Linked DNA regions of Homo sapiens. The protein of the gene in region 1 binds, or shares a complex with, the protein of each later gene. Each region holds a gene or a part of one and is shown on either strand. Other genes may lie near its edges.

What was found.
Region 2: the proteins of SRRT (region 1) and NCBP2 are in contact, whole or in part, in a cryo-EM structure (PDB 8PMP), measured with the Homo sapiens proteins. Residues at the interface, in NP_056992.4 of Homo sapiens: Asp857, Arg859, Ala860, Ile861, Val862, Glu863, Tyr864, Arg865, Ala869, Asp874; in NP_031388.2 of Homo sapiens: Ser48, Phe49, Tyr50, Thr51, Thr52, Glu53, Gln55, Lys67, Met71, Leu73, Met76, Lys77, Lys78, Thr79, Ala80, Tyr89, Asp107, Glu121.
Region 3: the proteins of SRRT (region 1) and NCBP1 are in contact, whole or in part, in a cryo-EM structure (PDB 8PMP), measured with the Homo sapiens proteins. Residues at the interface, in NP_056992.4 of Homo sapiens: Asp857, Pro858, Arg859, Val862, Glu863, Tyr864, Arg865, Asp866, Leu867, Asp868, Ala869, Asp872, Asp874, Phe875, Phe876; in NP_002477.1 of Homo sapiens: Tyr461, Gln463, Lys511, Lys557, Ser558, Ser560, His561, Ser564, Ala567, Lys568, His570, Lys607, Ile609, Arg610, Thr611, Gln612, Met648, His651, Glu705.

What each region holds. Positions count from the first base shown.
Region 1 is NC_000007.14:100,869,127-100,879,795, forward strand, and holds the start of SRRT (serrate RNA effector molecule homolog), read left to right. Parts: upstream 1-5,976; 5' UTR 5,977-6,202; intron 6,203-6,219; exon of another isoform or gene 6,220-6,324; coding exon of another isoform or gene 6,325-6,327; intron 6,328-6,437; exon of another isoform or gene 6,438-6,446; coding exon of another isoform or gene 6,447-6,464; coding exon 6,465-6,586; intron 6,587-10,669. Other genes in the region: TRIP6 (thyroid receptor-interacting protein 6), read left to right, coding at 1,244-1,337, 1,448-1,617, 2,417-2,595, 3,498-3,618, 4,046-4,177. UniProt on the Homo sapiens protein: Acts as a mediator between the cap-binding complex (CBC) and the primary microRNAs (miRNAs) processing machinery during cell proliferation.
Region 2 is NC_000003.12:196,936,127-196,946,575, forward strand, and holds the start of NCBP2 (nuclear cap-binding protein subunit 2), read right to left. Parts: upstream 6,403-10,449; 5' UTR 6,378-6,402; coding exon 6,300-6,377; exon of another isoform or gene 5,833-6,299; coding exon of another isoform or gene 5,809-5,832; intron 5,017-5,808; exon of another isoform or gene 4,848-5,016; intron 4,002-4,847; exon of another isoform or gene 3,751-4,001; intron 3,307-3,750; coding exon 3,125-3,306; intron 1,523-3,124; coding exon 1,384-1,522; intron 957-1,383; coding exon 885-956; 3' UTR 1-884. Other genes in the region: protein NCBP2AS2, read left to right, coding at 6,591-6,890. UniProt on the Homo sapiens protein: Component of the cap-binding complex (CBC), which binds co-transcriptionally to the 5' cap of pre-mRNAs and is involved in various processes such as pre-mRNA splicing, translation regulation, nonsense-mediated mRNA decay, RNA-mediated gene silencing (RNAi) by microRNAs (miRNAs) and mRNA export.
Region 3 is NC_000009.12:97,634,337-97,644,984, reverse strand, and holds part of NCBP1 (nuclear cap-binding protein subunit 1), read right to left. Parts: intron 4,192-10,648; coding exon 4,103-4,191; intron 3,424-4,102; coding exon 3,323-3,423; exon of another isoform or gene 3,317-3,322; coding exon of another isoform or gene 3,294-3,316; intron 1,782-3,293; coding exon 1,625-1,781; intron 1-1,624. UniProt on the Homo sapiens protein: Component of the cap-binding complex (CBC), which binds cotranscriptionally to the 5'-cap of pre-mRNAs and is involved in various processes such as pre-mRNA splicing, translation regulation, nonsense-mediated mRNA decay, RNA-mediated gene silencing (RNAi) by microRNAs (miRNAs) and mRNA export.

The DNA.
Region 1 (10,669 bases):
AGTACAGACGGGGTTTCACTAAAACCCCAGTTTGTTGGCCAGGCTGGTCTCGAACTCCCGACCTCAGGTGATCCGCCTGCCTCAGCCTCCCAAAGTGCTGGGATTGCAGGCCTGAGCCACCGCGCCTGGCCAAGGGGCTGGTTTTGGAGCAGAGTCAGAGGTCTGGGACGTGGAATAGGTAAGGGCAGGGCAGTGCGGGGGAGCAGGATAGAACTGCCCATTGGGGCTGAGCGCGGTGGCTCATGCCTGTAATCCCAGCACTTTGGGAGGCTGAGGTGGGTGGATCACCTGAGGTCACGAGTTCGAGACCACACTGACCAACATGGAGAAACCTCGTCTCTACTAAAAATACAAAATTAGCCAGGCATGGTGGCACATGCCTGTAATCCCAGCTACTCGGGAGGTTGAGGCAGGAGAATCACTTGAACCTGGGAGGTGGAGGTTGCGGTGAGCCGAGATCGCACCACTGCTCTCCAACCTGGGCAACAAGAGCAAAACTCTGTCTCAAAAAAAAAAAAAAAAAAAAAAAAGAACTGCCTACGGGCCCCTGGGCTGAGATGTTCTCAGATGAGCTTTCTAGCTGGAACTGCCTGGCCACCTTCAGAGACATTATAGCAGTCCCCAATCTTTTTGGCACCAGGGACCAGTTTTGGGGAAAACAATTTTTCCATGGACTGGGGAGGGGGATGGGAGGGGGTGGGAGGGGGATGGTTTCAGGATGATTCAAGCACATTACATTCATTGTGCACTTTATTTCTGTTATAATAATAATAGAATATATAGTATATATAATTGTTTCGGTATATATTACAATGTATATTACAATGTAATATATACCGAAACAATTATACAATTCACCATCATGTAGGATCAGTGGGAGCCCTGAGCTTGTTTTCCTGCAACTGGACAGTCCCATCTGGGGGTGATGGGAGACAGTGACAGATCATCAGGCATTAGATTCTCATAAGGAGCTTGCAACCTACATCCTTCGAACACACAGTTCACAATAGGGTTCATGCTCCTATGAGAATCTAACGCCGCTGCTGATCTGACAGGAGGTGGAGCTCAGGCGGTAATGCAAGTGATGGGGAGCAGCTGTAAATACAGATGAAGCTTTGCTTGCCCATTGCTCAGCTCCTGCTGTGTGGCCCAGTTCCTAACAGGCCATGGCCTGGCGGCTGAGGGCCCTGGTATTACAGCATCAGGAGCTAGAGTAGGACCGAGCCCGATTCCCACCTTCCAGGTGCCCCTGAGCCAGCCTCCAGAGGATGAGCTGGATAGGCTGACGAAGAAGCTGGTTCACGACATGAACCACCCGCCCAGCGGGGAGTACTTTGGTGAGCTGAGGCTGTGGGGTGGGTGGGACGTGGGAAGGGAGGCTGGGAGACAGAGGGGACAGTGGCTTCCTGGGTCTGTGAAGACTGATGCTGTTTCTCCCTGTCCTCAGGCCAGTGTGGTGGCTGCGGAGAAGATGTGGTTGGGGATGGGGCTGGGGTTGTGGCCCTTGATCGCGTCTTTCACGTGGGCTGCTTTGTATGTTCTACATGCCGGGCCCAGCTTCGCGGCCAGCATTTCTACGCCGTGGAGAGGAGGGCATATTGCGAGGGCTGCTACGTGGTGAGTGGCTGGGGCTGGGAGGAGGGAGTCAGTGGCTGGATGCAGGGGGCTTCCATCCAAGGTGGTAACTAGAGCGTCCAAGACCAAAGGAGGAACGGTGCTAAAAGCCAGGCGACTGAAAGTGATGTACAAACAGGGCGGAATTCTGCAAGTATCAAGCAAGTAGCTTAACACTGGTGGCTGAAGGGAAGGACGCAGCTCTTACAAGTGTGGAGCATCTTACAGTTAAAGAGAATGTGTTAGATTCCCATGACACCCCTGTGAGGCAGGTATTACTACTGATTCCTGGTTTTGTTTTTTGTTTTTTTTTGAGACAGTCTCGCTCTGTTGCGCAGACTGGAGTGCAGTGGGGTGATCTCTGCTCACTGCAACCTCAGCCTGCCCTGGTTCAAGCGATTCTCATGCCTCAGGCTCCCGAGCAGTTGGGATTACAGGTGCCCACCACCACACCCAGCTAATTTTTGTATTTTTAGTAGAGACAGGGTTTCGCCATGTTGGCCAGGCTGTTTTGAAACTCCTGGCCTCAAGCAGTCCGCCCACTCTGGCCTCCCAAAGTGCTGGCATTACAGGCGTGAGCCACTGCACCCAGCCTGATTCCTGTTTTTCTCATAGTGTTTAAATACCGTGTATAGTGCTGGGACCTGAACTCAGATCTGCTCAAGTCTGCCTTTCACCGAATCACATGCAGGAGGCTGCATGCAGGAGGCTGCAGAAATTAGATGGCTGGGTTGCTGGGGTTCCTGTTGAGCTGCCATGGCTCCCGCCCGCTCCCAGATCTTCCTGCCTTCCTTCCCAACAGGCCACCCTGGAGAAATGTGCCACGTGCTCCCAGCCCATCCTGGACCGGATCCTGCGGGCTATGGGGAAGGCCTACCACCCTGGCTGCTTCACCTGCGTGGTGTGTCACCGCGGCCTCGACGGCATCCCCTTCACAGTGGATGCTACGAGCCAGATCCACTGCATTGAGGACTTTCACAGGTCAGGCCTGGCCTCCACCTTGTCTCACAATGTCTGACCTTTCCTGTCTCTCTCATCTCTTCATGCCCCAGGACTGTCTCTTCCTGTTTCCAACCCTGGCCCTCCTTCGTTCTTTGTTATTGTTATTTTTTAGAGACGGAGTTTCACTCTGTTGCCCAGGCAGGAGTGCAATGGCATGATCATAGCTCACTGCAGCCTCCAACTCCTGGGCTCAAGTGATCCTCCTACCTCAGCCTCCTGAGTAGCTGGGACTACGGGTGCACACGCCACCATGCCTGGCTAGTTTTCTTCGTTTTTTTTTTTTTTTTTTTGAGATGGAGTCTCACTCTGTCACCCAGGCTGGAGTGCAGTGGCACGATCTCAGCTCACTGCAACCTCCACCACCTGGGTTCAAGTGATTTGCCTGCCTCAACCTCCCCAGTAGCTGGGATTACGGGCGCATGCCACCACGCCTGGCTAGTTTTTTTTTTTTTTTTTTTTTTTGTATTTTTAGTAGAGACAGGCTTTCATCATGTTGGCCAGGCTGGTCTCAAACTCCTGAGCTCAAGCGATCCACCTGCCTCGGCCGCCCAAAGTGCAGGGATAGCAGGCGTAAGCCACTGCACCCAGTCTTCTTCTTTGTATTTTAATAAAGACAGCGTCTTGCTGTGTTGCCTAGGCTGGTCTTGAACGCCTGGCCTCAAGTGATCCTCCTGCCTTGGCCTCCCAAAGTCGGGGGATTGCAGGCTAGAGCCACTGCACCTAGCCTCTCTCATTCTCTTTGACATCGTCCCTTCCCCAAGACCTAAGGCCATACCTCTGGCCTCTCTGATTCCCTCCTGTGCCCCACCTTCTCTGGGTTCCATTGTTGGTGCCCTGCAACCCCAAGGCTTGATGGCCTTCTTGGTTCTCTTCCCCTGCAGGAAGTTTGCCCCAAGATGCTCAGTGTGCGGTGGGGCCATAATGCCTGAGCCAGGTCAGGAGGAGACTGTGAGAATTGTTGCTCTGGATCGAAGTTTTCACATTGGCTGTTACAAGTGCGAGGTCAGGGGCCCCCAGCACGTGCAAGGGGCTGGCAGTGTCTAGGGTGCTGGGTAGAGCATGAGGGGGAACACAGAGGTCTGGGGTTGATGGAAACCTGTTGCTTCTTTCTTTTTTTTTTTTTTTTGAGACGGAGTCTTGCTCTGTTGCCCAGGCTGGAGTGCAGTGGCACAATCTTGGCTCACTGCAACCTCCACCTCCCGGGTTCAAGTGATTCTCCTGCCTCAGCCTCCTGAGTAGCTGGGATTACAGGTGCTGGCCACCATGCCTGGCTAATTTTTGTATTTTTAGTAGAGACAGGGTTTCACCATATTGGCCAGGCTGGTCTTGAACTCCTGACCTTGTGATCCTCCTGCCTCGGCTTCTCAAAGTGCTGGGATTACAGGCGTGAGCCATCGCGCCCGGCCAATTGTTGCTTCTTTTTCAACAGGAGTGTGGGCTGCTGCTCTCCTCTGAGGGCGAGTGTCAGGGCTGCTACCCGCTGGATGGGCACATCTTGTGCAAGGCCTGCAGCGCCTGGCGCATCCAGGAGCTCTCAGCCACCGTCACCACTGACTGCTGAGTCTTCCTAGAAGTACCTGCTGGGTTCTCAGTTCCAGTTCCCATCCTTTGATTGATCACTCTCCCTGACATCCACCTGTATGACTTTGTCACCAAATGCTGTCTTCTCTTTCTCCAATCAAGAAATAATAATCCCTCGAGTTTACAAAACACTTCCAAGTCTGTTGTCTCATCTGATTCTCCCAGTAGCCCATTACAGGCCCAGTCATTGTTACTGCCTGCATTTTTTTTCTTTTTTTTTTGAGACGGAGTCTGGCTCTGTCACCCAGGCTGGAATGCAGTGGTGCCATCTCGGCTCACTGCAACCTCTGCCTCCCAGGTTCAAGTGATTCTCTTGCCTCAGCCTCTTGAGTAGCTGGGATTACAGGCGCCCGCCACCACGTCTGGCTAATTTTGTATTTTTAGTAGAGACGGGGTTTCACCACCTTGGTCAGGGTGGTCTTGAACTCCTGACCTCAAGTGATCTGCCCGCTTCACCCAACCAAAGTGCTGGGATTACAGGCGTGAGCCACCGCCCTTGGCCACTGTCTGCATTTTTACATGTGAGGATGTCAGAGCTGAGAGGTGACTCCCCCAGATTGCATGGTTCTTAAATGGTGGAACCTGGGTCTTTTTGACTCAGGTCCAGTTTTTTTTGACAACTCTTGTAATCCGTCACTACCCTCCTCTCAGTGCTGGGAGCAAGCACGCCTCAGGGAGGAGGCAAGATTTCCTCTATGTATCTATTTTGAGACAGGGCCTCACTCTGTTCCCCAGGCTAGAGTGCAGTGGTGCAATCAAGGCTCACTGCAGCCCTGAACTCCTGGGCTCAAACAGTCCTCCTGGCTTAGCCTCCCCAGTAGCTAGGACCACAGGGGCATCCCACCAAGCCCAGTTATTATTTTTTTGTGTGTAGATGGGATCTTGCTATGTTGCCCAGGCTAGTCCTGAACTCTTGGGCTTAAGTCCTCCCTCCTCGACCTTCCCAAGTGCTGGGATCACAGGTGTGAGCCAATGTGCCTGGCCCTAAATATTCTGTAAAGGGGCCTTGCTATGTTGCCCAGGCAGGTCTCCAACTCCTGGGCTCAAGTGATTCTCCCACGTCGGCCTCCCAAAGCGCTGGGATTGCAGGCGTGAGCCATCTCAGCTGGTCTTCCTATTAAGTCTCACACTCAATTCACTGAGAGGGGCCTTGGTGTTACTCCCGGGGGTGGTAATCCATTGAATCTGGGCGGTCCATACTCTGTTTAGGGCGTTAACTTACAGCCTATTTCATCCAAATACTGAGCGGGGTTAAGACTGAGATCTGCCAATTTTACTTAAAGACGGGGCGTCTTTGTCGAGGAAAAGCAGGAACGGCGGACTTTGCATTTAGTGCGCACTGTGGCACCCAATTTTGGCTGGATATTTGGAGCAGAAAATGGTGGGATACGATGCTTTAAAATGGTTGCTTCCACCTTCCATCCCCTAAGCGCCCGCGCTTCCCAAGCCCACGCCCTGCCCGAGGAGGGGACGAAATCACCCCCGGTGAGGTCAGGAGGCCCGTGGGGGGAACATGGCTGGATGAGAACCGTCTTAGGACCCCGACACATCTGGGGTCGCGCGATCCTCGACTTCCGCTCTCCCTTCGCGCCCAGAGGGCTTGTTCGCCTCCCGAGGCCGCGCTTGGCCCAGCCGAGGTCCCGTAGTTCCTAACGCTCGAGCCGTTATCGTCTCGAAAAGCCGCGCGAGACTTGCGAGATCCCCGCCCCTTTCCCATCACGCCCTGCTCTCCCCGCCCTTCGCGCTCGGTTTGTTAGTTCCAGTTCCGGCCGCGAGGGTGGAGCTTTGTGCCTCGGAGGCGTGGGTGACGCAGGCGCAGCGCGGGCTGCGCGCGCTACTGCCCATCCCCGGTTGTCCCACTTTTGTTCGCCTCTCTTCGGCCCTCTACTCAAGAGCTCCGTCTCCGTCTCGCCCTCCTCGAAGTCCTCGTCGCGCGCCCGCGACCCAGGTCGCCCTGAAATCTAGCCCGTCCGAGCGCGAGTCCAACGGCCGCGGCCGCACCAAGGTGGGGGAGGGGAGGAGCCTGGGGGGCCCCGCTGGGGCGGGAGAGGAACCGGGGTCCACGGGGGCGGGCGCGGAGAAACTCGGGGCGAGTGGAGGTGTTGGAGCCGCGTTCTCAGGCCTAGGATGGTGGGGGCCGCGGAGGGCTGGCCTTGGCGGGAGGGAAGCGGGCGAGCTGCCCGCGAGGGACGGTCCCTTCCTCCGCTCGTCCTTTTGCACCACTCCTACCGCCTCTCCCCGGTCCCCAGGCCCCCTCAGACCGTGCCATGGGTGACAGTGATGACGAGTACGATCGAAGGCGCAGGGACAAGTTCAGAAGAGAGCGCAGCGACTACGACCGTTCCCGCGAGAGAGATGAAAGACGTCGAGGGGACGATTGGAATGACAGGTGAGCCGTTTTTAACTTCATCTTGTCCCCGTTTCATGCCGTTTCACTCCACCCGCGTCGCTTTTCTTTCTCCCCCTTGTAATTTTTATGAGGGCGAATCCTATGAAATGGCTCATTGGACCGTTTTCTGTGGTTCAGCCTATTTGCTGTTGGCCAAATAACTAGCTGTGGCTTGGTTTTTGAAATTCTCTGCAGATCAGAGCTATAGAGCTAAGAGTTTGAGTATGAAGAAGCACTGTTTATACATGCACGAAAAGCGTGCTTTTTTGCTTTTTTTTGTTTTGTTATTGAGATGGGGTCTTGTTCTGCTGCCCTGGCTGGAGTGCATTGATGCAGTCGTAGCAGCCTCCACCTCCCGGGCTCAACCGAGCCTCCCGCCTCAGCCTCTTGAGAAGCTGGGACTCCAGGGGGAGGCCATCACGCCCGCCTAACTTTTAAAAATTATTATTGTTATTTCGAGACAGAGTCTTGCCCTGTCGCCCAGGCTGGAGTGCAATGGCGCAATCTTGGCTCACTGCAACCTTCGCCTCTGGGGTTCAAGTAATTCTCCTGCCTCAGCCTCCCGAGTAGCTGGGATTACAGGCACCTGCCACCACGCCCGTCTAATTTTTGTATTTTTAGTAGAGACGGGGTTTCACCATGTTGGCTAGGCTGGTTTGGAACTCTCGACTTTAGGTAATCCACCCAGCTCGACCTCCCAAAGTGCTGGGATTACAGGCATGAGCCAGTGCTTGGTCTAAAATTATTTTTTGTAGAGACAGCGTCTTGCTCTGTTGCCCAGGTTGTAAATTATATTTTAGGAGGATTGCTTCAGAAAAATAATAATATAGAGTTGATCTGACTGGAGAGGTCGTCAGATTATTTCCCTGACAATATATGATTAGGTTTCTTGTCACTGTTTTGCCTAAAATCTCAGAGTTCATAGGGCGGTGCTGATTGGATTGATTATAAGATGTGGTTATTGACCTTAGGGTGTTACAGTGAGCTTGGCATGGGGGATCAGAATGGCAGTGGATGTATTCTGTAAATGAGTATATATAGTGGAAGTTATAAAGAGGGTAAGCATTGAGGGAACAGATCTCTAAAGGAGGGGAGCGGTGCTGGAGGTTGTGTGTCAGGGACCCACTGGAAAGTGACACTTGGCTAGACTTGGAAAGATGAGTGGGAATTCCCCAGACACGAGTGACATGAACAGCTTGGAGTTGTGGACATAACGTGTGATTTTAGCATATTCTAGTTTGGTTAGAGTCCTGTTTCTCAGGATGTCCACAGACCATAGGGGGTCTCCGAGGCTAAAATTAGTTTTTGTGGTAATGTTTACATATTATTGCCATTTCCACTGTTGGTGCCATAGCAATGATGGGTAAAACCGCTGATGCTTTACCAAACATCAAGGCAGTGACAGCAAAGAGTTAAAAAAAAAAAGCCAGCCGGGCCCAGTGGCTCACACCTGAAATCCCAGCACTTTGGGAGGCCGAGACGGGCAGATCACGAGATCGAGAGATTGAGACCATCCTGGCCAACATTGTGAAACCCTGTCTCTACTAAAAATACAAAAGTTAGCCAGGCATGGTGGTGCGCGCCTGTAGTCCCAGCTACTTGGGAGGCTGAGACAGGAGAATTGCTTGAACCCAGGAGGCACAGGTTGTAGTGAGCTGAGATCACACCCCTGCACTCCGGCCTGGCGACAGAGCAAGACTCTGTCTCAAAAAAAAAAAAAAAAAAAAAAGCCACTTCCATCAATGATTCTTGATGAAAGAGTAAAACATTTAAATTTGATTAGATTGGACTCTTGACTGTACGTCTTTTTTAAAAAAATTTTTTTTTGACACAGAATCTTGCTCTGTCACCCAGGCTGGAGTGCAGTGGGGCGATCTCAGCTCACTGCAACCTCCACCTCCTGGGTTCAAGTGATTCTCCTGCCTCAGCCTCCCGAGTTGCTGGGATTACAGGTGCGTGCCACTCTGCCTGGCTAATTTTTGTATTTTTAGTAGAGATGGGGTTTCACCATGTTGGCCAGCTGGTCTTGAACTCCTGACCTCACATATCCACCTGCTTCGACCTCTCAAAGTGCTGGGATTACAGGCCCGCGTTAGTTGTCTTGAGCAAGAGTACGCATGTGATTGAGTGAGCTGAACTAACAGCTTTTTTCCATGGGATGTTATTTTTACTTGAATGAATGACAAACAGTGATTGTTCATACTTGGGTATTTGGCAGACATCTTGAAAATGAACTGAGAACCTGTTACTTCAGTGTAAGCTGTTGGTATTTGTTGCCAGTGATGAAGTAGAACTTTCCAGTGAAAATTAAAATTTTGGGCCGGCGCAGTGGCTCATGCCTGTAATCCCAACACTTTGGGAGGCGAAGGTGGGTGGATTGCTTGAGCCCAGGAATTTGAGACCAACCTGGGCAACGTGGTGAAACCTGTCTGTACAAAAAAATACAAAAATTAGCTGGGGGTGGTGGCACATGCCTGTAGTCCCGGCAACTCCGGAGGCTGAGGCGGGAGGATGGCTTGAGCCTGGGAGGTGGAGGTGGGAGTGAGTCTTGATGGCACCACTGCATTCCAACCTGGGCAACAGAGAGATACCCTGTCAAAAAAAAAAAAAGGAAATTAAAATTTTGGAAAACTTCTACTAATGTGAGCTTGACAGCTTCCCATTAAGTAAAGACTTTCTTGGTGAGATAGGCAGTGATGCTGATGAGTACATTTTGATATTGGGTGAGACATAATCCAGGTCCATTGAAAGGGAAAGATAGAACAGTGGATTTTAATGCAGCAGAGAAAGAAATATTCACTGATACTATTTCAGATTGAAGGTTCTAACTAGCCTGTGAGAAACTACTTCCTTCTTGGACAAGGTAGCATAAAGAAAAGAAAAAAAAGAACCTACCTCTTGTTGAATTTTGGGTAGTATCCAAAATGAATATCTACAGTTAATCTGAAAAGGCCTTTCCAACTCCTTATCAGTATGAGGCCTGATTTTCTGTTTTTTTTTTGAGACGGGTCTTACTCTGTTGCCCAGGTTGGAGTGCAGTGGCACGATCATGGCCACAGATCACTGCAGCCTTGACTTCCCCAGGCTTAGGTGATCCTCTCACCTCAGCCTCCTGATTAGCTGGGACTACAGGTGTATGCCATCACACCCAGCTAACCTACTTTCTTCCTTCCTTCCTTTTCTTTTCTTTTCCTTTCTTTTCTTTTCTTTTCCTTCCTTTCTTTCTTTTTCTTTCTTTTCTTTCTTTCTTTCATTCTTTCTTTCAGATGGAGTCTCACTCTGCCCAGGCTGGAGTATAGTGGCGTGATCTGGGCTCACTGTAACCTCCATCTTCCGGGTTCAAAACGATTCTCCCACCTCAGCCTCCCGAGTAGTTGGGATTACAGGTGCCTGCCACCACGCCCGGCTAATTTTTGTGTATTTAGCAGAGACAGGGTTTTGCCATGTTGGCTAGGCTGGTCTCAAACTTCTGACCTCAAGTGATCTGCCTGCCTTGGCCTCCCAAAGTGCTAGGATTACAGGCATGAGCTACCACTTCCAGCCAGCCAGCTAAGTTTTGTATTTTTAGTAGAAAGGTGGTTTCACCATGTTGCCCCAGCCTGGTCTTGAACTCCTGGGCTCAAGCAATCCACTGCTTCGGCCTCCCAAAGTGCTAGCATTCATTACAGATGTGAGCCACCATGCCCGGCCTGCCTCATTTTTCAAGCAGAACAAAATATCTCAACAGATTCAGTGTAGAAGCTATCCTCTACAAAGCCAGAACTTGGAGAGATTGGTGACAATGTAAAAACAATGCCACTTTTTCTCACCAAAATTTTTCTGGAAAACGATTTTTCATAAAAACATGTAATGTGTTTCATCTTACTGTGTAATTTAAAAATGAAGGTTTTGGAACATTTCGTTTTAATTTTGAATATAGTAAGTATCGATAGATGTAACCCACATAAGCAGAAACTCTTTGGTGTCCTCAGTCATTTTTAAGAGTATTAAGGGGCTGAGGCAGGAGAATTGCTTGAGCCCAGGAGGCGGAGGCTGTAGTGAGCCGAGAGTGATTGTGCTGCTGCACTCCAGCCTGAGCGACAG
Region 2 (10,449 bases), on another chromosome or scaffold:
CTCCCCTACCCCTGAAATTATTTAGAGGTTCCCTCTATGACAAACCCTTGCTTTTTTTTAGCTTTAGGTATAACACTGACATCTTTTGAAAAACGTGTTAGTAAATACTCAAGTTCTGGCCTCATTTCCTGATGTATGAAGCATGGAAGCAGTGCTGTCCTGTGGAGATTGCTTTTGCACCAACTACACAGGAAGGTCCTTGACCTCTAAGCATGCCTTTAGAGGTTAGAATTCACAGAAAACAAATTCAATTGTCAAACACCTGTTCCTAATTTTGTGCAAAGCAATACAACATAGCACAACTCCATTTGTTGTTTTTCGTTGTGCTTTGTAGAGACGGGGTCTTGCTATGTTGCCCAGTCTAGTCTCAAACTCCTGGCCTCAAGCTATCCTTCCTCCTCAGCCTCCCAAAGTGTTGGGATTACACGTGTGAGCCACCATGCCTGGCCCCACCTCCATTTATTAGGCTATCTCATGCAAACTTAAAATTAAAAAAATAATCCCAGGCCCCAATGTAGATCATGAACCTACTTAAGACTCATTATGGTAAAAACAAATTCTTACATTTTTCTGTCTTTCTAAAAGTGTAGTGGTTATGGCTAAAGACTAATCAACATTACAGATCCAATCTGTTGTCAAAGAACACAATTTCTGACCTGGTAACAAAATTGTTCTGATAATCTGACACATGGCCAAGATTCTCAGACAAGAATTAAAGGCATTCTTTTGGATTCTGTCCTTTAATAACTTTCAGAGGCTTCCAGCTCAGTAAAGACACTGATCAAATCTTGGTAAAAATGGGCTCGTGTGCAGACTTTAGGTGATGTTCTTCAGCAAATTCAACAGGCCAAAGGAGTGTTTGTCACTGACAGAGCTCTCACCACTCACTGGTTCTGTGCCAGTTTTCCATAGCCTCCTCTCCCAGCATCGTAGTCCTGCCGATACTCATCCCGAACCTTTAATGGAAAGAATCCAGAGTTACAGTATGGAAAAGAATGGTGTAACAAATATGCCTCCCACAAACATGTTAGACAAACAGTGAAACCTGTTCAGATGCCACAATGTGAACATTTCAAGCAGGACATATGCACTTCAGCTCACTTCAGTGCGTTTTGCTTTCATTTTAGATGTTCCTGCAGGTGGAAGATACCTAGCCCTAGCAGAAGTTCAAGAATGGTTGCTTGTTAGAAACGTACAGAACATACCATTTCACGGTTTAAAAAAAAAATTCACCCAAACCGTTGGGTGGTTTTCAGATCCACTTCAAGCCAAGGTTATAGACACAAAGTTATTTACAAAAGAGTAAATACAAATTGCCAAAACACCTGTCATTGTGACTGGAATCCCAGGCAATGGCTGAGCCCAGAGACCCTTCTTGCATACCTGGCCCCCAGATCGCCCACGGCCGTATTGCCTGCCCTCCTTAAAGCCTGCGTCCCAGTCTGTGCGAATGATTCGGTCATCCAGACGCGTCCCATTTATGTACCGCATGGCGTTTTCCGCATCTGCGCGTGAGTAATATCTTAAGTATTAAGGAACACTAGCATTTTTCCAAACATTTCTGGAAATAGGGGAACAACATGTAAATGAAGCTGAGTTGTTAAAAAGTACAAGAGCTAATCCAACCAGATGGAGTTCAAAGACAGTAATTCAGCTTGCCCAGGCCTGTTTGCGATTGGTTTGGAAGCACATAGAGTCAAATATGACACGTATCCATGGCTACACTGATCATATTTCTTGGACATTCCTGTTGATAATTTTTGGTCCCATCATCTCTGTATTTTGGTTTGCAAGTTTAGATCACTGTACACTTCTTATCCAAGAAACCAGTGCTGTATATTCAAGTTAGGTTCTGTACATTCCAAGGCACCCTAATCAAGAGAAGGTCACCGTGCACGTGGAATTGTGCTGCACTTCACTAAAGGAAAGACTCAAGCTGTCACCAAGGTAGCAGTTCCCAAACCTACTTCATCAGAGACCTCCCTTTAATTAAAGGGGAAGACATTTAATCTCAGACAAATAAAAATAAGACAACAGTGTTCTGAATAAACCATCTGGAGAAACTAGTATCTTTGATGTTAGCAAGCCAAAATAAAATCTCTTTTCATTCTAGCATTTGGGAAACCTGTGTATCCCCGAGGCAAGCCTGCAATCTGGGAGAGAAGCCCTGCCTGGGTCCAGTGAGTCAGCATTCTTTTCCTTAATTATGAGCAGAAATCCAGGGATCACCAGACACTTAAGGAAAAATTTCAACCGAAACAAACATAATTCAGGGCACAGGAAAAAATTCAAAAGATATATTAAATTGGGCCTGCAAAATTTCTCAGAATATTAAATTGAATGACCAAAACATACAGTAAAAAGAACATAGGATAAATCCAAGAGGTCCAATACTTAAAAGAGTCTGAGTAAGGGAATTAAATGATCAAAGTAAATAGTTTTGGTTTGTACCTATACAGTCAGGTTATATACATCTATATAATGAAATACTATACAGCTATTTACTTAAAAGTTTTTTTCTTTAAAGATGGGGTCTTAACCCGTCACCCCCGCTGGAACACAGTCACAACTCAGTGCAGCCTTGAAATCTTGGGCTCAACTGATCCTCCTGCCTCAGCTTCCTGAGCAGCTGGCACTACAAACACCAGCCACCATGCCCAGCTGTACAGCTATTTTAAAAAAAGACCTACATATGCTGAAATGGAACAATAAAAAATAAAAAAATGATTTTAAAAACAGCACATGAAATACACTACCGCACACCCACAGGGTTACTTCTTGAAAGACGCCCAAGAAACTGGTAACTGACTGCCTCTGGCAAAGGGCATTAGGGGTTTAGAACAGTACGAGATTTTTATATTTTCACTACATTCTTTGGAATTTTTTTTTTTTTACGTGAAGGGCAAACATTCTTGAAAAACTTTTTGTTAAAGAACCATAAAGCATGGATTTCAGAAGAGAATATAAATAGTATCAGCTTTACAGTATAAGGGCAGAGACACACTGGGTGGAAAGTAGGAGGGAGATGAAGGAAAACGTAGGGACGAGTGCAGGGACGCTTATGAGCTACCACTCTCAGCTCTACCCTGGTTCAGCAGCTACATTAGATCCATGGGAAGGATACTCCACAAAACAGAATCCACATGCTGTTTTCTTCATTTTATCCAGACCCATAATGATTTTCTTTATGTCACCACTTTTGCTGAAGAGTTCATAGATTTGTTCTTCAGTTGTGTAAAAAGAAAGATTTCCAACATATAACGTACAGCTTTTCTTCAGTAATTTTTCTTGTTCTTCATTGTCACCCTAGAATTTCAAATAGAGACAAAAGTTAAGCAACTTCAGAGCCTTGCTTAAATAGTATTTCTAAGTACGGTAGAGACATTCATTAATTCTGGTTTGGAAATCAACTTCTCTCATCCCAGCCTACCAGAAATCCCTTGCCCAAAAAGGGGGATGTCGACCTTCTGTGAAGCACTTATGCGAAGTCCAGACTCTTAGTAGAGACAGGGCTCAAAAGTTATACCACATACAACAAAGTCACTTCTACGCCCGACTGCCACGCAAGCGGCTTCCCTTTTCCCTGCACACACCATATCCTCAGCAGTGCATCCTTTAAACCCAAGTGTAGACTCTGGACCTTGACCCAATATATGACAAAGGGCCCTTTTATCCTTCGTAGTGAAAAATAAGTGGGTTTTCAGAGAGAGAGAGAGTTCCTCTTTAATAACCCCCTAGAGACTGTTGAAAGCCACAACCTTGATGCTTTACGTGCTCATAGATCTTTCTCTGAGTTTAGGGGAAAATGTAGTGATCACTAAAAACAAAACAGAGCTCACTTTCTTAATGGGCTTCCAAATTGGGATGACAGGATGAAGCCAGAGACTTAAGCATATAACTGGGCTTCATCCAACACACCTGACAGACAAAGCCCTGGGTCCAAAATGGCTCATCGGGGTCAGGCGCGGTGGCTCATGCCTGTAATCCCAGCACTTTGGGAGGCTGAGGCGAGTGGATCGCCTGAGGTCAAGAGTTTGAGACCAGCCTGGCTAACATAGTGAATGAAACCCTGTCTCTACTAAAAATACAAAAATTAGCTGGGCATGGTAGCAGCGGGCGCCTGTAATCCCAGCTACTCGGGAGGCTGAAGCAGGAGAATCGCTTGAACCTGGGAGGTGGAGGTTGCAGGGAGCTGAGATTGCACCACTGCACTTGAGCCTGGACAACAAGAGTGAAACTCTATCTCAAAAAAAAAAAGTCCACAGGACAATAGTCATTGTATGTTAAAAAGAGGTTTTCGGAACTTTGGAGTGAGACATTAGAGAAAGTAAATTCCTTTCATTTTACTGCTGTTACTGATTTGTGAACATGGAAAGGAGGCATCTTCTTTTTCTACTTTTCTCACACATGTAAGTAAGATCCAAATAAATAGCCTACAGTTTAAGATAACTGTGGTGTAAGTGCTTAAAGTATATTAATATGGATTCCATTCACAGAATGCTAGAAATTCCACATGACAGTATGGCATTAGCATCTAAAAAAAGCTACAGGTTTAGACTGAGGAGATGAATAATAGACAAAGTCAGAAGGTTCCAGTTTTCATCTCACAGGATGCTTTAAGTTCAAAATGGTCAGGATGTGGAACTGTCTAAAGTAGTAACTAAAAGTGGTAGAAGTGCAAATCATGCCTGGCACTTAGGCATCCCAGCACTTTGGGAAGCCCCAGGCAGGTGGATCGCTTGAGTCCCAGAGTTCGAGACTGGCCTGAGCAACACAGGGAGACCCTGTCTCTACAAAAAATTAGCTGGATGTGGTGGCGCGAGCCTGTGGTCCCAGCTTCTCAGGAGGCTGAGGTGGGTAGGATCACTTAGGCTCAGGAGGTTGAGGCTGCGTGAGCCGTGATTGCGCCACTGCACTTCAGCCTAGGCAATAAAGCGAGACTCTGTCTCAAAAAATAAAATACATTAACTGAATAAATTTTTTTTTTTTGAGAAGGAATATCGCTCTGTTGCCCAGGCTGGAGTGCAGTGGCGCGATCTCACAGCAACCTCCACCTCCCCGGTTCAAGCGATTCTCCTGCCTCAGCCTCCCGAATAGCTGGGATTACAAGCGCCTGCCACCACGCCCGCCTAATTTTTGTATTTTTAGTAAGACGGGGTTTCACCATCTTGGCCAGGCTAGTCTTGAACTCCTAACCTCGTGATCCACCCGCCTCAGCCTCCCAAAGTGCTGGGATTACAGGCGTGAGCCACCGTTCCCAGCCTTGACTAAATAAATCTAAGAGCTTCCCTAATTTAGCGTCAAACAAAATTTCCCTTTCCCTACTCTAGTAACACATTTCACACATTCTCCACACTTACCCTCTGCTATATGCGCCCCTTCCTTTCCCAGTCACAAGGGGATTTTTCCCTTTTCTGAATCCTCACTACAGGGGATTATGAGCTCGCAGAGCGCAGAAACTGTCTTCCCTCTCCCTCTAGGGTTTAGCACAAGGATTTGGCGACAGCACTCGATAAACGTTTACTAAATAATTGGGTTAATGAGTCCCGCCCCGCCAACCCCCAACCGTATTCCATCCCTACCTCCGCTGATACTGAAAAGTCTACTTTGAATATCTGCTGCCTCCCCTTTTTCCACAAAATATACTGTGATATAGTCCGGACTAAAAATTTCCCTCTTCTGAAATCCAGCAATTCTCCGATCTTTACATCCGAACACCCTCAAAGTGCCGAGCTTGGCGGGTCCACCTCCCCACTCCGAAGCTTCCCCGAGGGCGGAGTGAGGACTCCACTTGTGTCTCCCACGCACCGCGTACAGCTTCCGTAACACCATCCTCCCAGAGAAGGGGCCCGAATCGCCGAAGGGCACTGCTTCGCCGATTTAAAAAACAAAGCAAAAAGCCCCGCATCTGCATCAGGAAGGCGCCTCTGCCTACTCTGGGAGAGAGAAGGGCACCCCTCCCCCTTGCTACGTAGTCGTCTGCGGAGGCACAACCGTGGAAACGGGAGCCGCCACCACCACCACCGCTCAAACCTCTCGGCACTGGCTGGGGTACAGGGAGCGGCTGCGAGCGAATGGGATAAGCGAGCCTCCAGTTCCCCGTCTTCCAGAGCAAGTGGCTTCAGTGATATCCAAGCGCCCTTCCAGCACCCATTCCCTGCCTCGCCAGCAGGCACCGGGGCCCCACTTGGCGTTTGCGGATTTCAGCTGAATGGGAGGCGACACAATGAGACAAGAGCAAACCGTTTCTCAGCGTTCTTGCCCAGGGCCTTCCCGTCTCGCGGCCCGGCCTCCCTCACCCGGAAGTGCTGGTCCCGGTACTGGCTCAGCTCCACGTAGGAGTCGCTGCGCAGCGCCTTCAGGAGGCCACCCGACATAGTGCAGAGAAGCGGACCACAATGCGGCGACTCCCGGCACGAGGCTGCGTCCGCGATGGCGGAAGCGGAAACGCGCGGAGGCGAGCATCTCATTGGACCCAATCCGAGGGCGGCGTGTCGTCATCAAGCTGCGCGGGGGCATAGACGTCCGGGTCGGGCGCCGCGGGGCGGAAGACGAGGGCGGCGAGGTCGGGTTCCGGGCGCTTGGAGAAGATGGTGCTGCGGCGGCTGCTGGCCGCCCTGCTGCACAGCCCGCAGCTGGTGGAACGTCTGTCAGAGTCGCGGCCTATCCGACGTGCGGCGCAGCTCACGGCCTTCGCACTGCTGCAGGCCCAGCTGCGGGGCCAGGACGCGGCCCGCCGCCTGCAGGACCTCGCGGCTGGGCCCGTGGGCTCCCTGTGCCGCCGCGCTGAGCGATTTAGAGACGCCTTCACCCAGGAGCTACGCCGCGGCCTCCGAGGCCGCTCGGGGCCACCACCAGGTAGCCAGAGGGGCCCTGGCGCAAACATTTAATCCTGGGCTGTGCGGGGCCGAGGCCGCTTGCTTTTCCTTCCGGGCTCTACAGTGGCATCAATGTGGAGGGGTCATTCCGGGCACTGCGCGCGGCTTCGAATCCCGACTGGGATTGTTGGCCTGCAGACATCCCACGCATAAGAGCCTAGGCCAGACCGCCCGCTCCGTTGAAGTCTTGTGATTGGACAAGACACAGTGTGGAGACAGCCCTAAGCCTAACAGAGATGAAGGTAGGCTGGGTCCAGACACGGCACCTACGGAGAGCCACGGACCGAAGCCAGAGAGCCTTTCCTCTGCAAGTGGGACTGAAACTCTTGACAGATGCTGCTCAATCTGACTGGTATAGCAGGACAGTTAATTCCAGGGACGATATGGATGAAAAGACAACCCTACAGCTGCCAAATTCCTTTGATTAAATGTGTGAGCTGGTTGATAGGCATGAGTGTGATACTTCTCAGGCAAGATGTGTTAAGAATACCGGGGACTGTAGGCCTATGGTAATAATAAACACGTATTTTATGAAATGAGTCTTCTGTGCTGGGACTTGCTCATTGCACTCTATGTGTTATCTCACTCCTTACAACGACATTCACATGAGGAAGCAGATTACTTTTTGGATTTTTTTGTAGAGATGGGGTGGTCTCGAACTCTTGGGCGCAAGTGATCCTCCCGCCTCAGCCTCCCAAAGTGCTGGGATTATAGGCAAGAGCCACTGCGATGGAAACAGAGGCTGCTGCTTAAGTTGCCCAAAGTCTTGCAGAGTGGGATGTGAGCAGAGGCATTTGACTCCAGGGCCTAAGTCCTTAACACAGCTCTGCAGCATTTACCCTGATACTCAACCCCTTCCTTCCCCAACCCCCCACCATCAGGCATTAAGACTACTGCCTAGGGGCAGGGCCTGGTGGCAGTTGTGTCTTATCCCAGCCACTGCAGAGGCAGGAGGATCGCATGAGCCTGAGATGAGACCAGCCTGGGTAGCATAGCGAGAACCTTTCTCAAAAAAAAAAAAAAAAAAAAAAAAGACTACTGCCTGCCATGGAACAAGTTACCTGGACTCCTATCCTGTGGGGAAAAGAGAGATCAGATTGTTACTGTGTCTGTGTAGAAAGAAGTAGACATAGGAGACTCCATTTTGTTCTGTACTGAGAAAAATTCTTCTGCCTTGAGATGCTGTTAATCTGTAACCCCACCCCCAACCCCCTGCTCTCTGAAACATGTGCTGTGTCCACTCAGGGTTAAATGGATTAAGGGCGGTGCAAGATGTGCTTTGTTAAACAGATGCTTGAAGGCAGCATGCTCGTTAAGAGTCATCACCACTCCCTAATCTCAAGTACCGAGGGACACAAACACTGCGGAAGCCCACAGGGACCTCTGCCTAGGAAAGCCAGGTATTGTCCAAGGTTTCTCCCCATGTGATAGTCTGAAATATGGCCTCGTGGGAAGGGAAAGACCTGACCGTCCCTCACAGCGTGACACCCGTAAAGGGTCTGTGCTGAGAAGGATTAGTGAAAGAAGAAGGAACGCCTCTTTGCCGTTGAAACAAGAGGAAGGCATCTGTCTCCTGCCCGTCCCTGGGCAATGGTGTAAAACCCGATTGTATGTTCCATCTACTGAGTTAGGGGAAAACCGCCTTAGGGCTGGAGGTGGGACATGGGGGCAGCAATACTGCTCTGTAAGGCATTGAGATGTTTATGTGTATGCATATCTAAAGCACAGCACTTAGTTCTTTACCTTGTCTATGACACAGAGACCTTTGTTCACGTGTTTATCTGCTGACCTTCTCTCCACTATTATCTTATGACCCTGACACATCCCCCTCTCCGAGAAACACCCAAGAATGATGAATAAATACTAAGGGAACTCAGAGGCCGGCGGGATCCTCGTCTGCTGAATGCCGGCCCCCTGGGCTCCCTTTTTTCTTTCTCTATACTTTGTGTCTCTTTCTTTTCCAAGTCTCTCCTTCCACCTAACGAGAAACACCCACAGGTGTGGAGGGGCAACCCACCCCTTCACTACCCCTCATTTTAGAGGGTCAGGGATACAGACAGACTACGATCCAGCCAGTTAGCAGACCTGCGATTAGGAAATCCATTGTATATAGAAATGTCCTGTCATTTGAAGCTCCTAGCTAAATTTCTGATTTTTTTTTTGAGACAGGACCTAACTCTTGCCCAGGCTGGAGTGCAGTGGCACAATACTAGCTGTCACTGCAACCTCGACCCGTTGGGCCAAGCGATCTTCCTCCCTGGGACTCCCAAGTAGCTGGGATTACGGGCCCATGACACTATGCCCAGCTAATTAAAAACTTTTTTTCTGTTTTTTTTGTTTTTTTGAGACGGAGCCTTACTCTGTCACCAGGCTGGAGTGCAGTGGTGCGATCTCGGCTCACTGCAACCTCCACCTCCCGGGTTCAAGTGATTCCCCTGCCTCATCCTCCTGAGCAGCTGGGACTACAGGTGCGTGCCACCATGCCTGGCTAATTTTTTGTATTTTAGTAGAAACGGAGTTTCACCACGTTGGCCAGGATGGTCTCGATCTCCTGACCTTGTGATCTGCCCACCTCGGCCTCCCAAAGTGCTGGGGTTACAGGTGTGAGCCACCGCGCCCAGCCACAATTTTGTTTTGTTTTGTTTTTGGTTGAAATGGCATTGCACTTTGTTGCCCAGGCTGGTCTTGAACTCCTGGCCTCAAGCAGTTCTCCTGCTTCCGCCTCCCAAAGTGCTGGGATTACTGGTGTGAGCCACCACACCCAGCTCTGATCATTTCTAGTTAGGCAGCACAGTTAATCATGCAATCTAGAAAGCTTGAAGCCATCGGAAAAATTGAGGCTGGTAACCAGACACTAGCTGAGTGTTGTGTGTTCTCTGCCCTCTGGGGCAGGATGGGAGGGCTTGAGACCCACAGTTCTAAGGAGGAAGAACACCTGGCTCCCTAATCTGGGAAAATGACCCCCTTTTTTTTTTTTTCCCCCAAGACGGAGTCTTGCTCTGTCTCCCAGGCTGGAATGCAGTGGCTCTCGGTTCACTGCAACCTCTGCCTCCTGGGTTCAAGCAATTCTCCTGCCTCAGCCTCCTGAGTAGCTGGGATTACAGGTGCGTGCCACCACGCCTGGCTAATTTTTATATTTTTAGTAGAGATGGGGTTTCACCATGTTGGCCAGGCTGGTTTTGAACTCCTGACCTCGAGATCTGCCTACCTTGGCCTCTCAGTACTGAGATTACAGGTGTGAGCCACCATGCCCAGCCAGGAGAATGACTCTTAAGGACAAGGTGCAGAAATGGCTGGAGAGTTTCCCACCACCTCTCAGGAACAGGAGTAAAAGAAAGTAGGGAGAAAATCTCCAGTGCTATTATATATTTCAAACATTACTTGTTTGCATAATAACCAAACACTGAGACAGCAGGCATCAGAGTGCCATGAAGTACAACACAACTCCCACTTCCATGCTTGAAGAGCTTTGTGAGAGCTGTGCCTGTTGAGGCAGGGGACGTGTACTGTGGACTCCAGGAATGACACAATGTTAGCCGGCAGACACCTCAAAGTTCCTCTGATCCCAACA
Region 3 (10,648 bases), on another chromosome or scaffold:
GTTTTTTGCATAGCTGGGAACTAAAAATGGTTTTTACATTTTTAAATGCGTGAAAAAAAAATCAAGAGTATTTTATGACATATACAAATTACATGAAATTCAAGTTTCAGTGCCCATAAGTAAACTTAGTGGAATAGCCACGCTCATTCAGTTACATATTGTCTATGGTTGCTTTTGTGCTACAATGGCAGAATTGAGAAGTTGTAACAAAGACTATATAAAGGACAGTAATCTGTGAGTTCATACGTTTCTATGCTATACTACATCAAGAATCCAGATTGTAAAATATTCTAGCTACTTCAACCTATAATCTCCTTTTCTGTTTGGCTGTAATTTTCACTGAATTACAGAAATGGAAATTACAGAACACATATTTATTGGGTGTGCTTAGTGTGCTATTGCTAAACACTACTAAAAGTCACTGTTAGGGGACCCATTCTAGTGGAACAAGCACAATCTCAATACAAAGGAATGACTCCCACACTAAAAGGCAAATTAAGCATTTTTTAGGAACAATGACAAAGGGAGTTGGGGAAAGCATCACAAAGGAGGTAACAATTAGGCTAGGTCATAAAGGATAGCAACAGCCTCAAGTAGTGAGCAAGGAGGGCAGTCTAGGCATAGAGGTTCAAAAACAAGGTGTGTTTAGGGATCTGCAAGTTATTTTGATATTGCTGGGGAGCATATGGGAGACAAGAATAGAGAAACAGACTGGGGAAACCATAAAGGGTCAGGCTAAAGAGTCTGGACTTTAATCCTATAGCCTGATGGGTGTCCAAACTTTTTTGATTGTGTACTCAGTAAAAAAGAATTTGATCACATATCTTCAACACATACATATGTATTTATGATATACACTGGATCACCATTAATCTATGTATTATTAGTAAGGTTTAATTTCATTTCCACTTAAGATAAATAAGAGTTCTTAATATTCACTTCCTGAAACCCAAGGAATCATCTTGTGCACCAGGCTTTTAAGACCACTCACTGTAGACAATGGGAAGGAACTAAGGTTTTTTTAACCAGTAACCAACATGTGCAGAGCCTAGTTATAGAAAGACCAGTCTGGTGCCACTGTAGAACACAAAGTGAAAAGCAGAGAATCTAGATGCAAAAAGATCAGTTAAGAGGCTATTAAGAACATCTGGAGGAAGGCATAAACTATGCTAGAGGCCCTGGAGACTAAGAAAGGACAGACTTGAGAGAAATTAGGGAGACAGAATTGACAGGGATTGGGAACACCTATGGTACGAGAGGGCAAAGGGAAGACAAAAATTAATGCTCAGCTTTCTAGATGGGTTATTCAGTACACAGTGGCCACTGTATGAGCTGGGGAGAGGGCAGAAAAAAGGAGGTATGAATGATGCATTAATTTAGGCACTTCCTAGTAAGGTATCTGAAGGCTATGCAGCTAGCATCTGGAATACTGGACTGGAGCTCAGGAGAAAGGTTGGAGATACAGTTACAGATTTGGGGGTATCGTCAAAATAAAGGTGGCTTATGAAGCTATGAAAGTGAATGAGAATGTTTTAGGAGAGCATTTTAAATTATTTGGTTGTAGTTCACCTTTTCCCTCCATCCCAACAGTAGTCATAACATACCAACAAACAAACTAACTTACCAAATACACGGCTTCATTATAATTGTTTGCTTTCAATGATTCTTTAAGTTGACGAATCATGGCTTCTACAAATTCTCCACCAAAATTGTAATTCCTGGCATTCAGTAGTCCAACTAATGTTGTATAAATTGTCAGCTTCTCAGGTAATAGGCGTGCACTGATTTAAGAACCCAGTATAACAAGAAAACCCCAAAACAATGGCGTTAAGTTGCTGAATTTTATGTGAATCTTTTTATCATTCCATTAACTTTGGAACAGGATTACTTTTAGCTATGTCTTTAAAAATACTTCAGAAAAAGCATGTCATTGAGAAATGTTACAGACATAGTCCCGTAATTTTTCATTTTAATTCATCAGTTAATCTAAGAGTTAAGAAAGTAAATGATTTAATTGTAAAGTTATCATACTGAAATAAATAAAACTAATGCTACAACAGTTTTTCTTCAAGTGTGCTTAGTGGAACTGAATAGCATTTCCACAGAACATGGTTTCCATGGTAAAATAGCTCAGAAATCCTGGGTGAAACAAGCCTCTTTAATACAGAATCATTAAGGGGGGGCGTGCAGCATTCAGAATTTCTAAACTTAGCTAACCAAATGTCATGGAACTAGAATTCTACTTTGAGAAACACTATTCTAGTTGTTTAGAAAAGATGCACAATTAAAACGAGTTTCATCTAAGTTCCTACCAGTTTAATTATTGAATTTTTTAAAAACATACTCTGATATAGTTAAGATTTGTTTACGTCTCAGTTGCTTACTCCAAGTGTGCTGATTTCATTAAAGTTATTTTAAAAGTATGGGAAAGGATTACAATAAACCTTTAGAAAAAGCAATTTTTCCTAATTTAGGCAGCCTTTAGAATTAGCTCAAAAAGCAATAAGAATTCATAATCATTAAGTGGGCAAGAGATTCTCTTTGACTTGTTTTCCTAAAGTACCTAGCAGAACATCAGGGACAATCAAGGTCTTCAAAAAAAATACCTGTGTTGATGGTAACTGTGGTCCCTGAAACCCTCCCAAAACCAAAAATTAAAAAAGAACACTGCGAAGCAATACAAGTTCAGCCTTAAACAAACAAGGCTTCCAACAGTTTAAGTGTAAATACTACTCCATTTTAATAAAGGATTTCAGAAGATTTCCTTAGTAGTTTCTTAAAGTTACCTTCACTTGATCTAAACTAAAAGGCTGAGAAGTGATAAACATCACCTTCATAATTTAAAAACACCTCATGGATACATTACAATTTCATGTAACTACAAAGACTCCCATTTATCCAGAGAGTATGCCTATTAACAGTGGCTTCCAAAGCATCTTCAGTCTTCCAAGAAGGGCTATTACCTGAGTTACCAATTCCCAAATTTGTCTGGTACTAATTTAAAAATGTAAGTATCATACATTTAAATGTACATGCTTAAAAATATATATCTGAATGAGACAGTATCTACTATCTCTATAAAAAGTCAACTAAAATGATTCTAAGGTTGTAAGAACATACAAGGAAAATGTTCAATTTTAGTTTTATCCCTAAGAAAAAGAGTTCGCCAAAGCGCCAAAGGTTGGCTCATTTGTACAAATTTCCCCATAGAAGTAAAGCCAAGGACATATAGAACATAAACATGTATTTTGAACATTTCCCAAAGCATTTAAGAGTAGATAATACATTATCACCTGGATTCATAAATCTTTTGCATACATACACTGTACAAAGAAGCCTTAAGATCTTGCTCTTGTAGTTAGGAAGATCAGCTTCCAAAACACCAGCCAAGCCTTCTAGGTTGCTCTCCAAAGAGCAGGCACTCTGTAGAGGACATCACATTAAATATCTGTCAAGTACTCAGCAACATAAATTTATTTTTAAAAATCTATTTAAATGTAAATATATACATATTTTAAAATCTATCATTTTAAAATCATTACCAATCATCTGTCCTTTCAATTGCTATTTTAGTGAACTAAAATAAAAACTTCTGCATGATCATTAAAATAGTCTTACATGCATACAGAGCTATAATGGGTTTAGTATAAATCAATTCAGATAGTTATTGTTCTTCAGAAATCCATGAAAAGTGGACGAGTGAAATTTAAAAACTAAGCAGTCTATGATAACAGAATAAGTATTAGAAATGGGAGGACACCATGGGCTCCATTTTACCTCTTTTACTAATTCACTCTCTTACTCTGGGCAAATTACCTCAAGTATTCAGGGCTGATTTAGTTCATGCATAAATTAAGGGGTCTATACCCTAGGTCCCTTCTAAGGGCTCATCTTCTATGAAAATTATTAATTACTAAAGTACTAAAAATGATCAATTATCTACATCCCAGGGGCTTCAACATGGATTCAATTTGGGATACAGATGCATGGTAATACCAGCTTTGCCAAAATGTAGTCCAACTTTTCAGCTGCAAAAATTAATCAAAGCACAGTTAACCACATTCTTAAACCCATCACAGCCTGTGCCTATTGTGTGACATACCTTTTCTCCTACTTTACATATTAAAGATTCCAAATGATCTTCAGTTTCATTTGCATCAGAGGTCTTTCTCCTTTTGTGAGGCTGCCCACCTATTTCAGCAACATAAAAAATTAACATTACATGATAAATCTGCTATCACAAATTTTATTTAACCTTTTTAGGTTATAATCTCTTTTCTACCAGGCCCTATGTTTTTACAGAGTAGAAGCTCTTCACAGACCCTCCATTTCTCAGACTAAGCTAGATTAACCAACAGCCTCCCATTCCCAGAGCCACTATATACAATAACTCCAGGAGGCATTATTTATGTTAAATTTTGTGTGAGTAGTGCCCATGGAGCTATGCAATCAGCAGCCCTGTCCATTTCTGTGGACAAGCTGGAAAGCTGCCAACAACATGTTAAACACTAGTAGTTAGAATACTCATGTACCGCTACTCCCATTCTTTTAACTTGAGTTGTTTACTGATCCTCAGTTGCTTGTTCCGAAACCTGTTAGTACCAGTAGTATTCATTAGTCTAATAATGTATTATGTAAATGACAAAATAAGGGTGCAAAACCAAGTCGAATGCTTTGGAAAGACTTGATCAGAAAAAAAAGCTGTCATATCAGCTATAAAGAGGAAAGCTTCAAAAGATGGGAAAAAGGAGCATAAAACATTAGGATTTCTCACTTGCTTCACATGTTTCTAAGCTCTAATCTCAAGTCTTCAATTAACAATTTCAGTTCTGCATATGATGCAGCACAACGGTATAGTTTATCCTAAATAATGGGAACGACAGTCAGTATACGTATATTCAAAGAAAAGTCCTGAGCACTATATCAAAAAATTGGTGGAAAAAAGGACCACGTTTTACAATTCCTGCTTTAACTAGCTTTTATTAACTGAATTACTGATAACTGCTTTATTTAAAAACCATATCATTCGAATAATCTCTATGTTTTTTAAATCTACCATTCTAAAATCATTACCAAGCATCTGTCTTTTTGATTGCTCAACAATTCAAGTTGAATGAAGGTGTGCTAAAAATTAACCTCAAACACCTGTCTATTAAGACCCTTGCTGTTTGTATCTCTTACCACTTTGTTTAAAGCCTTAACACACTCACCTAAGTCCTTTTGTGGTATAACATAAAGCTTAAAAAATTAAAATAATAGTGTTAAGTATGGAACCTGATGCTGCTGCTAAACACTTTGGCTAGTCTAATACAATCCAATTTTCGACTTCCATTGATTCAATTATTTGGTCGGCATATGGACAAGAAAGCAAGAGCCTGTAACTGTGCAGGGAATCGGTATTAATAATGAAAATCTGCAGTTGGATATATGGTTACACAGTAGCAAGTTACATATAACTTCAATCTTCAGATCTGAACAGCCAAAGGAATTATTGTTACAAAGTTCATAATCACTTACTTGCCTATGGAACACTTGGCTTGAAAATGATGTATGGTGATTCTCATAAAACACAGCACCTGGCTATTCTAAGCTTGGAATGTTAAATCTATTGAATGACTGAAATGATCTTCAGATACCACATGAACTGAAGCTGAATAAAACGAATCTATTACTATCCACATAGGATCTGAGGGGGGGTATTATAAAGGTTACAGGGTAAGACACTCTGTACGTCAACTTCCCAACCCATTAATTACCATGATAACCTGACTGAATGTCCACTGACTATAATTTTGAAAGGATAATGCCACAAAAAGTATAATACGCATGCAGCATGAGAGCTGAGATGTATTTATTCCTGGAGATATCTGCCTGTGTAAAGTTGTAGACATGTGTGGCACAGAGGTTCAGGGACCTTGATTCTTAAGTATAGATCAAACCTAAGTCACAGGACCTATCAAGGTTCCACCACCCAAAGTGCCAAATTTCACACAAAGGTCTTTCATTTCCAGGATTCACTTATTGAAAAAAAGCATAATTGATGTAATATTTACGCAAGCTGCCAGCTAGGACATTCAAATAGCCTTCTTCTACAGCAGTAGTTCTCAACAGGGTGTAGATTTTGCCCCCAGTGGTCATCTGGCAAACCTTGGAGACATTTTTAGTAGTCAAAACTAGGGGAAGCAACTGGCATCTAGTGGGTAGGGGCCAGGCATGCTGCTAAATATCTCACGTTGCATAGGGCATCTCCCAAAACAAATAACTGGCCAAGAATGTCAATAGTGCTGATGTTAAGAAACCGTATTCTAGAAAGCAGAGCTCCTCAGAACCAAATTTCAGTGAGGTTGGGAGAATGCAGATGCTGAAAAACTAGCTGAATGAGAGCAGTTATTTTTTGTTGCTGTTTTTTAAACCTTAAGCACACTGTTCCCTTCTTTCTGGCTCATCTATTTTGCCAACCCTTTATTCCACCTCTACAGTCTTCCTAACTTAACTTTCCAGCTGGCTTGTTCCAGTTTGGAATCATACCACAGCCTTTAAAGCAACCCTCCTAGGCCCTCTTATAAGCTTGAAAAGGGGAAAATAGTGCTGTGGGAAGAGAAGGTATGATTTCTGAGAAACAACTAGAAAATACATGTACATAGTCACATCTCTGAACTGCAAACCCTTTGTTCATTTTGGCTATATTAAAGGACAATATTTGTCTGGAGAATGGGAGGAGGCAGAAAGTATTAAGAGGTAAGAAATGTTCCACTTTCACCTGATAGTTGAGAGACTATAAAGGGGTGAAGACTACAGACAAAATCTGAACTTACGAACAGAAACATGATATTGAACTCATAAGACAACCTGGGTAAGGGAACAGGGAAATGAAATAAAACAATACGAATACAATTTGGGGAATTCGCTCAATGTACCCTGAAGAAAACGTATCTATGGTAGTTCCCAAGGCAAGAACAGATTTTTTATTAAAATTTAACTATGTAAAAGTTTTAAAATGTAAATTAAAGATAACATTACCACTTCACTCAGACAGACTTGGCTAGTATAGAGAAGCAGGTATAAAATCCATCTGAAAGGATCTTAATAAACCAAATAAATTTCCCCTCTATAAGTCAATCCTAATTTTATACGGGTACACTGTACATCTTATAGCCTTACAAGAAATTTTAGACCCACAAAATGGAAAACAAAAACCAACCCTGTAAAATAGAAAAGTAAAGTAACTAAAACCAACAACTTCAACATTACGTTTTTAAACCTTAAGCACACTGTTCCCTTCTTTTTGGCTCATCTATTTTGATATTGAACAACTTGAAAGATAACATGCCTTGAGCCCGCAGACTTAAAACAGGCAACCATCACTTCTGAAATAAACTATACTCTCTCAAAATAACAAATCCTTTCACTTCTATTTTTTTCTTTAGTTAAGTAAAAAAATCAGCCACAGTCCAAAAGACAAGGACCTAATTCTAAGAAGCTTAAATGGGGCTAATACAGCAAATCTGAAATTTTTGTAAATTGCCCAAATTCCCAAAATTGTATTCGTATTGTTTCTAGCTAAGATTTTGAACAATCTAAATACTTTCTTAAAAGAACAAACAATGGACTGCATATCCCATAGTAACTAAAAAGCTTCAGAGACATTTTTAAAGCAAGTCTAAGCAATTAGTTAAGATTTAGCACTGGACTAGTATCCATACACATTACTTTCCATTTAGCATTTCCTTTTCCTTGTTTATAAATGGACTACTACATGAACTTCATTGGTATAGCCTCCTAATCCTACCCCCCTTAATCTTTGATAGTCGAGTCTCAACACAGAAGTATAATTTTATAATCTCCCTATAAGATGCAACCCTCTGCTATCTCTCTAATCTTATCTCCTACAACTTCCCCCTCACTCACTCTGCTCCAGCACCACTGGCCTCCTTGCTCTTCTGTTAACATGACAGGAACCCTATAGTCTTCAGGCTTTTGTGCCCATGGTTACCTTTGGATCACAGCTTTTCCCCATACAGCTATATGGCTGCTACCTTACCTCCGGCAAGTCTTTGTTCAAATGCCATTCACACCGAAGCCTTCTCTAATCAACTTACATAAAATAGTAACTTCTCCCTCACAGAAATCTCTCCCCTCTTTACCTGGTATCACTCCATAGCGCCTGTCACTATATGATACACTATACTTTACTTGACTGTCTTCTCTCTACTCTAGAGGGGAGGCTCTATCTTTATATTGTCCACTGCTGTATGGCAAGTAATTAGGACAGAGCTTGGCACTGTTAAGTATTTGTTGAATAAATGATTTTATATATATATATATATATATATATATATATATATATGTATTACTTTCCATATGCTTGCTTCTATATATACAGTATATAATTATATGTAAAATATATATTAGAGTATATATTTATATAAAACTTATAATAAACAAACTTATATAATATATAAATATAAATTTATAATATATAAATATAAATTTATATAATATATAAATATATATAATACATTCTATTATAGTTTATATATATACACACACTCTATATATAGAGAGTCAAGCATACGGAAAGTCAGGGCAGTGACTGACAGCAGCTGACAATTGTCCAGAAATGCTCAGATGCATCTATTTAATTCTGACTGTAATAATTCCTACCCTATTTTAAAATAGCCTTCTATAATCCTTAAGCTTCTAAGATTTATTTTTTAAAAAATAGATTTTTAACTAAAAGGAAAGCATCCAAAATAATCTGATTCAGATCACTGTGTAGGGTAAACTCCAGCGATCGTTATCCAAATTGTGGCAACTGACAAAAATTTCAGATTTGCTGTATTATCAAACATGAATTGTATCTGCCTCTCCCACACTAAAATATCAACCATAAAAACCTTTGCTTAATGAATGCTTTGTTTTACTTGTCTTATTTACTCTGAGGTTCTCGCGGCAAGACCCAAATGGACAGTGATTTGGCTGCCAGCTGGTGTTAAAAACAAGCCAACTCCAAGAAAGTTATGTAAGTCTCCCAATAACCAAAGCAAAAGTTATTTTTCTACATATTAGCATTCCAATTCTCTAGGATGCCCTACAATGACATTTCCTCTCTCTTTAGGGATTACCTCTAAGTGAGAAAAAGGAAGCATTAGAACAACAAAGAAAAGAACAAAAGACTCAAGTTCTCCAGCCCCCAAGTAATGACTTGAGAAGTATATTAGTTTTTGACTAGTCAATTACAAAGCATATGAAAATTGTATTATCGGCGGGCGCAGTAGCTCACATCTGTAATCCCGGCACTTTGGAAGGCCGAGGCGGGTGGATCACCTGAGCTCAGGAGTTCAAGATCAGCCTGGGCAACGTGGCGAAACCCCGTCTCTACAAAAAATACAAAAACAAAAAAAAAATTAGCCGGGCGTGGTGGCCCGCGCCTGTGGTCCCAGTTACTTAGGAGGCTGAGGTGGGAGGATCACTTGAGCCTGAGAGGCGGAGGTTGCAGTAAGCCGAGATCGCGCCACTGCACTCCAGCCTGACAAAGAATGACACTCCGTCTCAGAAAAAAAAAAAAAAGGGAGGGAATTGTATTTTCTGTGCCTTGTACAGAGGTTACACAAGAAACCTCGTGTTAGAAATCAAAGCACGCAGCATAGTTATTTAATTTATACCTGTGTAGTGAAGAGAGCCCCGGACTGGATTCGCTCTTGCTGGTGTTTGGGAACTGACAGCTGTCCCTCCATCTTAGTTATGCTCAGTCTCTAGACCCTTAGGTGTCAGATAGAAAGCTGGACTAGAATATCCTCTCAAGCCATTCCTTCGTAGAAATCTGGTGTTTCACTATTAAAACTAAATGCATGCGATTCTGCCTCCACCTCAACTGCCACAACACTCAAGGAGAGACAAACGTTAGTAGATAAAATTTACTCAATTTAAAATGTCTGTTATGGGTTTTTTTCTTACATTGACAGCATCTGCTAACGTTTACCGCCTCTTAAGCGTTGGCAAATGATAAAACATCATTGTTGCTGATGTGTATTACCTCATTTAACCTTCACAAAAACCAGAAGATATAAATATCATTACTTCTGTATTACAGACTAAAGTTTAAGGAGATTTCATAACCTGGACAAGATCACCAAGTAAATGGTAGGGTCTGGCTTTGAACCTAAACCCTCTGGTTCCAAAGTCTCATCTCTTAACCACTACTATACACTCTCTTCAAAAAACAATACACTAAAATGTTAACAATAGAATTACTCTAAGTTTTACTTTTTTGGTGTGTGGATTTGTGTTTTTGACCGATTGTAAGGCTTATGTGTAATATAAGCATCTTTTTTTTGTTGTTGTTAAAACTAGAATTATTCCATCTTTATGAAGGCAACACTGATCTCCACGAGCACAATCATCCAAACGGAGATGGGAACCCCTGTTCTAACTCTCTCAGAGGCCTGAAGTTAGTTTTCTAGCACTCTCTCTCACACAAGGGAAATGCGCTTACGGCCAGTTCAAAATCTGCAGTAACCTGTGTCTGTTTATTAGGGACCTCTTGGGCGCAGGTAAGACAATATTCTTTCCCTGCAGCTTGAAAGAAGTGAAATCAACGGATAACCACTACCGGAACAGAGTTCAGACTGCAACTCATGAGATCTCT